Linked DNA regions of Homo sapiens: all the other regions are linked to region 1. The links come from fine-mapping of genetic effects on gene expression. A gene starts in region 1. Each other region holds a variant in brackets. All regions are shown on one strand. Distances are between the middles of the regions.

Evidence for each region. PIP is the estimated chance that this variant, and not a neighbour inherited with it, causes the effect.
Region 2: its variant is the best candidate, but not a certain one, in a credible set for the expression of RWDD1 in monocytes (TOPMed, PIP 0.52).
Region 3: its variant is the best candidate, but not a certain one, in a credible set for the expression of RWDD1 in skeletal muscle (GTEx, PIP 0.56).

Annotation. Positions count from the first base shown.
Region 1 is chr6:116,569,817-116,572,669 of GRCh38, reverse strand. It overlaps RWDD1 (RWD domain containing 1), which reads right to left and starts at 1,166. Exons shown (of 7, transcript NM_015952.4): 1 at 1,015-1,166. The coding sequence starts at 1,087. RefSeq lists enhancers at 912-1,011, 1,232-1,561, 1,592-1,771 and a silencer at 1,112-1,191.
Region 2 is chr6:116,529,766-116,532,265 of GRCh38, reverse strand. All of the region lies in intron 3 of TRAPPC3L (trafficking protein particle complex subunit 3L), which reads left to right. It also overlaps a transcript of CALHM4 not described here. Among named protein-coding and RNA genes, the nearest start is that of TRAPPC3L, 15 kb to the left of the region's middle. The variant G/T (reference allele first, on the strand shown) is at 1,522.
Region 3 is chr6:116,500,100-116,502,599 of GRCh38, reverse strand. TRAPPC3L (trafficking protein particle complex subunit 3L) reads left to right here. Exons shown (of 5, transcript NM_001139444.3): 4 at 1,934-2,119. Among named protein-coding and RNA genes, the nearest start is that of CALHM5, 10 kb to the left of the region's middle. The variant G/A (reference allele first, on the strand shown) is at 1,314.

The DNA.
Region 1 (2,853 bases):
TGCACACACCTAGGTTCTACTCACTCATATTGGCTTTATTTGACCGCTTCTCAAATCTCAGAGGAGCCATATTGATATAGTTATGTAGCATTTTTATAATCATCCGAAGCATGGCTTAATAGAGAAATCTCGTCCTCTAAATTATACCTAATGAACTTCTCATTATAATATTTTACATTAGCCCAACCTACCAAGTAATCTTCTGCTCTCTCAATCTCAGCTGGAGCTGAATCCCAAGTCCCATATGTCTGGAAAGTGAAAGAACAGGCAAGCGTTCTGGACGTATAACTCAGTACCAGCCCTGCCGCTAACTCGCTGGCGGACAGTACAGAGCAAGCCACTTAGCTTTCCTGAACCCCCATGACCTTGGCTTGGAGCAGGAGCCCCAGGATAGATGATGTTTAATCTCCCTTCCAATCTAACAACCTATGAATTTATAGCAGAACGGAAATTTGGGCCACATTATCCATTAGGCATTCTGCTGAATGCCAGATTTTTTTTTTTTTCATAAGAAAAGAAACCCGACAGACTTCAGGGACTATGCTACTCTCAAAACCGATTTGAGTAACTGAAAACAGCACTCTGAATCCTATAAACTAAAACAGCATCGTATGAAAAACAGTTTCTACCTTAATAAAGCTAAAAATGTGAAAACTAACATTCTTGCGGCTGTGGAAAAACGAATCGCACTTGGAGTATTTTTTCTCTTAATGTATTATAAATCTCAGGTTGCTGTAGGTTACACAGAAACCAAAGTAATCCCGACTCAATTTTCAGGCCTGACACCCTCCAACATCACCCGGACTTTTAGATTTCCGGGAACAAGCAGAGAAGGAGAAAAAGTCACTGGGTTGCTGGTAAGTGACTGAAGAACTTGAGGAGTGGAGGGCAAGGTGGCCGCGCGGCCTCAAGGTCCCCTTCTCCACCCCAACCTATGAGGCCCAGAGCTGCGGCAGCTCCTGCCCGTCCTACTCCACCTCGGGGCGGCTACAGGCTTGCGGCCGCGGGAGTCACCTGTGAAGGAGTCAGGGTAGATGGACTCCAGGGCCTCCAGCTCGTTGCGCTGCTCCTCGCCGTAATCTGTCATCGTGGCCCTTGCTCTTGCCCATAGATCGCCCAGACACCTAGGCGGCGCGCAGCAGCCCAGACAGCTGCCGCGCCGGGAGAGCGGGCGGCGGCCAGGCGGGCGCAGGCGCAGAGTCCCCGGCTGGAAGGCCCAGGGCCCAAAGCCAGACCCGGCTTGCTTAACTGCAGCTCCGCGCCGGCCTCCGCCTGCTCCCTACTTCCACGTTCGACTCGTTCTGCCTGGCCAGGGGGCACTGATTTGCTGCCTGTCCCACACTCGCTCGGGACTTGCTGGGACGGTGCGCGCGGTCTGGCATTCGCCAAGGACACCTACAGCCGGCTCCTGGGCTTTGCAGGGCCTGAGCCTTAGAAGCCTCTCAGCGCTGCATCCTCGCTCGATGAGTCTGGGCTGAAAGGCCGGCATCGCGCGTCAGTGAAGGATAGTGTCGCTGGTGGCCGGGCTGGGGCGAGGGGCGTCCGATGCCTTCACCTTTTCTGGTTTCCGGTTTGACGCCGTGGCGTAGGTGCTGCGGGCTTGCAACCTAGTGTGGACTGGTGGGGCTCAGGAGATTTCTGAGCTTCTCGAACTCCGTATTGCTTGGCGTCCTACGGGAGTTGGACGAGAGGCTGGGACCAGTGTAGATTCCACTGGGCAGGGGAGCAAAAGCTCTGCACTGCCTTGAATGAGTATGGAAGGGTCGGTCTAACTGCTTAATAAGTCGGGGTGGATCCAGGAGGGAGAAATAGACCGGAGGTCCGGCTTCTCGGTTCAGATCTTTAGGCTTAACTTCTGATTTTGTGAAATGAACGCAGCTGGACGTATGATAGATCTCAAGATGTCTGTGATTGTGTATTTGTGAATTGATGAAAGGAATGTAGATCTCAGTAATAACAATTATCATATGCAATGTAAAAATTGCAGTACCCCGAGAAATGTTGAGAACCTTTAATTTGGTAATACGACTTCCAAGAATAAACTTGAGCAAGTAGCATGCATCTGTGATCTCCAAAATCATTGCAGCAATTACAAAGAAAATTTTCAAAGAACCATGATGGCAAAAGCTAAGAAAATGGCTAAATAAACATGGTTAGCTTTATGAAAATGATATTAAAAACTATGGTAACAATAATAAAGGATCCCATGTTCCTTTATTATATTATTGCGCTAAGTCGAAAAATGGAAAATTTTAAGAAAATACTCAAAAGCTGTTGCCCACTTTTCTGTATTTTTCTTTGTTTTGATTTCTCTGTATTAAAGCTGGTTTCACTGGTATAGTGGGAGGAACACTTTTTAAATGAAAGATTCCTAATGATGAAGCCCCTGAAGCACCAGAAGGCACCTTGATCTTTTATTGAGGAGTGCTGCTTACCTATAGCAGAGGAACACTTTGATACTGATTCCGTGTTTACGGTATTAAGGGTTGATTTCAGGCGTTCTTTTAAACTTTAATGAAAAAGTGGAGTCTCCTAACTATGATGACAATCAAATAAAATACATAAAGTAACTTTGCAAGTATAAGTTGCTCATTTTTTTTGGATCGCCTCAGTTCAGAGGAATTATACTGATTTATTATGAGGAAAGAGCTGCCAGAGGAAACAGCTAGTGCATTAAGTCCTAAGTGGGGAGTCAAGGATGATTTTTGGCTGGAAGAACTGGAAAGACGAAGTTCTGTTGACCAAAATAAGTGAGGAAGACAGAATCAAATTTGGCAAGGAAGGTGGCATTACATCTTTAAATGACTCCTAGATGAAAGAAAATCAAGCAAAATTAAGTTTTTTTCTCCTAAC
Region 2 (2,500 bases), 40 kb after region 1:
GACAAAAAAGAGAGAAAATACTAGAAGAACTTTTCACATCTACACCCTGTTGCTCCTCCTAGTCTGTCCAGAAGAGGGCAGTGCTCCACATTTGTCTTTAAATGAAAGACTCCTACCCTGTCTGCTCAATACTAACACTACATGCAGAAGCAGCCCTCTTATTTCAAGCAATTTTCATTACACTGAAAATCAGTGCTCTAAAAGTACCTGGTTGTTCACAATAACAAATCCACAGCAACAAGATTTAAACTGCGGTAGGATCCTGAACAGGACAATAACTGATTCTTATTAAATAATGACAGCGAACTCAACTTGGTAATTTTATTGAAACATTTGTTTTTTCCATTATTGTTTATTATATTATATTTTAAAATTAAATATAAATTAAATATAAATAAATTTTAATTATATTAAATTGTATATTTATTATTGTTTTTTCCATTATTTATTATATGAGTGTAGAAGGTTTCAGAAGAGGGATATTCATTCTGCTACTCTGAGGTCAACTGTGATTTAAAATGCAAATATTAAGTAGGTAACCAAATCATTACATAGTGCATTTCATATTATTATGGAAAATGCTTGAAAATTATCCTAAAATTCATCATGGAGCCAAATTGTGTTAGGTAGACTCCTTTAGGTTACCAGCATTTGGTTTATGTCAGACCTTTAGGGTTTATTGTAGAGATATTCTGGGACACGATAATCAGACCCCATGAAAGAACCAAAATGGGAAAATCCTTACAGTTTTAGTCTATCTTGAACCCTCAGCAGCAAGTCTTTGTGGTTCTCTACTTCAGTCCTGTGCCATTTTCATGACTCAACCCTTCTCTGCTTGTTCTGCTCTTATAATTACCTACTAATATCTTTCCATTTTTCTTTTCCTTCTCTCCACCTCACTGCTTCTGGTGTTTCACAGTTTTTGTTGCCTCATGGCTTCTGCTTACTCTCTTTTCTCTGGGTGTCATTTGCATTCTGCCCAATCACCCAAACTGTGACTTTCTCTATGTGTTTCATATTTAAAGTCCCAAAAAGAGAGTCTTTAACCTGTCCAGCCAATCACTAGCCCTGTGTTAAGTAGAGTTTCATGCTAGGTCACTTCCAGGGCTCTAGCCAAGCTATGAACTGACTGTCCAGGCTCACAATGCCCACCCTAATCCATTAACTGTGGCCAGAATGGCAGGATAATTAGATAGAACATGGTGATCATAGGGAGCCCCTCAGGAAGGGAATCTGGGTATGAAAAACATTCCAAGATTTTCCAAAACAGGGCAAAGTAATTGACAAATATCTTGTTCTTCTTGTCTAGGAAATTAGTAACATATATATATATATATATATATATATATATATATATATATATGAGTCTCACTTTATCTATGAACCTTCTGCTCACATTATTTATGTTACTGATGCTGGTGTTTGTTTTTCTTTGTTTCAGAGCTAGAATTTGGGGCACGTAACTAGTGTTGCAGACTCCATTTAGTATGCTAACTGTAAGGTATTGAAGTAGACAAAACT[G/T]TCTTTGTTATACATTTGCAGATAATAATAAAGAAAGCAAACACTTCAAAATAAAATGACTCTGCACTTGGAAGCAGTCAAGTGAAACCACATTGTTAATGCAAAGTAAATATTTTAGACCATTAGCAAGAGTGGGGCAGACATTATTCAGAACAGTGAGCTCAGAGGAACGCTTTGGTAGAAGGGAGATAACTAAATTCTCCAAAGAAAAATGATGTTGTGCTACAATAGGTAGTATTAGGTTTCCCTTTGAACTTCTTATAAAGGAACCAATTACAAAAGTTTGCTCTGGTCATCTAATCCTGTGGGGCTTTTTCTTTTGTTACTCTTTTTTCTAAGTCTTTTTCAGTCCTTTCTCTTGACATTCTGTGTGTTTTCTTTTTTCAAAGAATGTTAGCAGAGACAATCTGATTTTTAATGTGAATAGGAAAAGTGCCCAGATGAAATGAACTTAAACCAGGGCATTCAAGTCAGAGACAGTAACATATCTTAGGCTGTTTTTTCCTTTTTCTTAAAAAGGAGGGGGGGTGGTTTGTTCCTTATGCTTCTGTATTTTACTTACTTTGCTTTTTTTTTCTAATTATATTTGGCTTCCTTCATTTTCTAAATAACATGCATCTTAAAAACAAATACTTCTCTAAAAGTCACCATATTTCACAATTCTGGGTCTAAGTCTAGATGTAATGCACCCAGTATGATGCACAACACTTGAATTTTGCTGCCATCATAATGCTGTGCATAAAATGGGGAGGCATTTTTTTTCCTGTCCTCTGAATGTTCTTTCTTTTACTAGGATGAATATGTAAAACTCAGTTTTAGAGTTGCTTTCCATTCCTCAACCCTCTTCCGCACACACTCCTCTTACACACAACTTACTTTATGGTATAGGCTCAGAAATGCAGCCTGGGGGCCATAAAATAAAAGACCTGGAACCTGTTTATTTTCATTCAATCTCTGCCCTTCACTTGGTTAAAATCTC
Region 3 (2,500 bases), 70 kb after region 1:
CCTTCATTTCAACCTTGGTGAATCTGACAATTATGTGTCTTGGGGTTGATCTTCTTGAGGAGTATCTTTGTGGTGTTCTCTGTATTTCCTGAATTTGAATGCTGACCTGCCTTGCTAGGTTGGGGAAGTTCTCCTGGATAATATCCTGAAGAGTGTTTTCTAACTTGGTTCCATTCTCCCCGTCACTTTCAGGTACACTGATCAAATGTAGATTTGGTCTTTTCACATAGTCCCATATTTCTTGGAGGCTTTGTTCATTTCTTTTCACCCTTTTTTCTCTAATCTTGCCTTCTCACTTTATTTCATCAATTTGATCTTCAGTCACTGATATCCTTTTTTCCACTTGATCGAATCAGCTATTGAAGCTTGTGTATGCTTCATGAAGTTCTTGTACTGTGGTTTTCAGCTCCATCAGGTCATTTAAGCTCTTCTCTACACTGGTTATTCTAGTTAGCCATTCGTCTAACCTTTTTTCAAGGTTTTTACCTTCCTTGCAATGGATTAGAATGTGCTTCTTTAGCTCGGAGAAGTTTGTTATTACTGACCTCTGAAGCCTACTTCTGTCAACTTGTCAAATTCATTCTCTATCCAGTTTTGTTCCCTTGCTGGCAAAGAGTTGTGTTCTTTTGGAGGAGAAGAGGTGTTCTGGTTTTTGGAATTTTCAGCTTTTCTGCTCTGGTTTCTCCCCATGTTTGTGGTTTTATCTACCTTTGGTCTTTGATGTTGGTGACCTATGGATGGGGTTTGGTGTGGATGTCCTTTTTGTTGATGTTGATGCTATTCCTTTCTGTTCGTTAGTTTTCCTTCTAACAGACAGGCACCTCAGCTGCAGGTCTGTTGGAGTTTTCTGGAGGTCCACTCCAGACTCTGTTTGCCTGGGTATCACCAGCGGAGGCTGCAGAACAGCAGATAATTGCTGCCTGATCCTTCCTCTGGAAGCTTTGTCCCAGAGGGGCACCTGCCTGTATGAGGTGTCTGTCAGCTCCCACGGGGAGATGTCTCCCAGTCAGGCTACATGGGGGTCATGGACCCACTTGAGGAAGCAGTCTGTCTGTTATCGGAGCTCAAACACCATGCTGGAAGAACCACTGCTCTCTTCAGAGCTGTCAGGCAGGAACGTTTAAGTGTGCAGAAGTTTTCTGCTGACTTTTGTTCAGATATGCCCTGCCCCCAGAGGTGGAATCTAAGGAGGCAGTAGGCCTTGCTGTGCTGCGGTGGGCTCCACCCAGTTCAATCTTCCCTGCCTTTTTGTTTACACTGTGAGCATAGAACCGCCTACTCAAACCTCAGCAATGGCAGACACCCCTCCCCCC[G/A]CCAAGCTTCAGCATCTCAGGTCGATCTCAGGCTTCTGTGCTAGCAGTGAGCAAGGCTCCATGGGCGTGGGACCTGCTGAGCCAGTCACAGGCTCGGGAGGGAATCTCCTGTTCCTGCAGATGCGAAGACTGTGAGAAAAGCTCAGTATTTGGGCAGAAGTGTACAGTTCCTCCAAGTACAGTTACTCATGGCTTCCCTTGGCTAGGAAAGGGAAATTCCCTGATCCCTTGCACTTCCCACATGAGGCGATGCCCTGCCCTGCTTCGGCTCACTCTCCATGGGCCACACCCACTGTCCAACCAGTCCCAGTGAGATGAACCAGGTACCTCAGTTGGAAATGCAGAAATTACCCATCTTCTCCATTGATCTCACTGGGAGCTATAGACTAGAGCTGTTCCTATTTGACAATCTTGGAAGTGACTCACAAGTAAAAATATTTAAAAATTTCACATCATAGGATCAATAAATTGCAAAGCTAAGGGTGAAGCCGGACTTCCTGACTATAGACTCCATGTGCTTAACCATTGTGCTGCAATGCCTAGAACTGGGTATTTGTTTAGTCTGCTCATAGTTATTTGTTCTAGACCAAGTTTTAGTAATTTTGTTTTTTTCTTATCAGGTTGCTTTCAAGATGTACCTGGGAATTACACCAAGTGTGACCTGTAACAATTCAAGCAAAAATGAATTTTCCCTGATTCTAGAGAAGAATCCCCTGGTGGAGTTTGTGGAAGAGCTCCCTGCTGGGCGATCTTCTCTGTGCTACTGCAACTTGCTCTGTGGGATTATCAGAGGTGCCTTGGAAATGGTAAAGTTGAATAAGTGAAGAATGAATGAAGAATCTCTTAGTCCTTCTAAGGCTAAAATAAGATAACCAATATACATAATTCATTTTGCTGGGTATATTGGTTATCTAATGGTGTGTTACAAATTACCCCCAAAATGTAGCAGCTTAAAAAAACAAACGTTTATTATCTCACACAGTTTCTGAGGATCAGAAATCTGGGAGCAGCTTAGCTAAGTGGTTGTCATTCAGAGTCTTTCATGGCTTAATACACATGCAGTCAAGCTGCTGGCCAGGGCTGCAACCTCTGGCGACTTGACTGAGGCTGGAGAATCTACTTCCAAGCTCACTCACACAGCCCCAGTGCCTTGCTGGCAGTTGGCAGGAAGCTTCATGAAGTTCCTG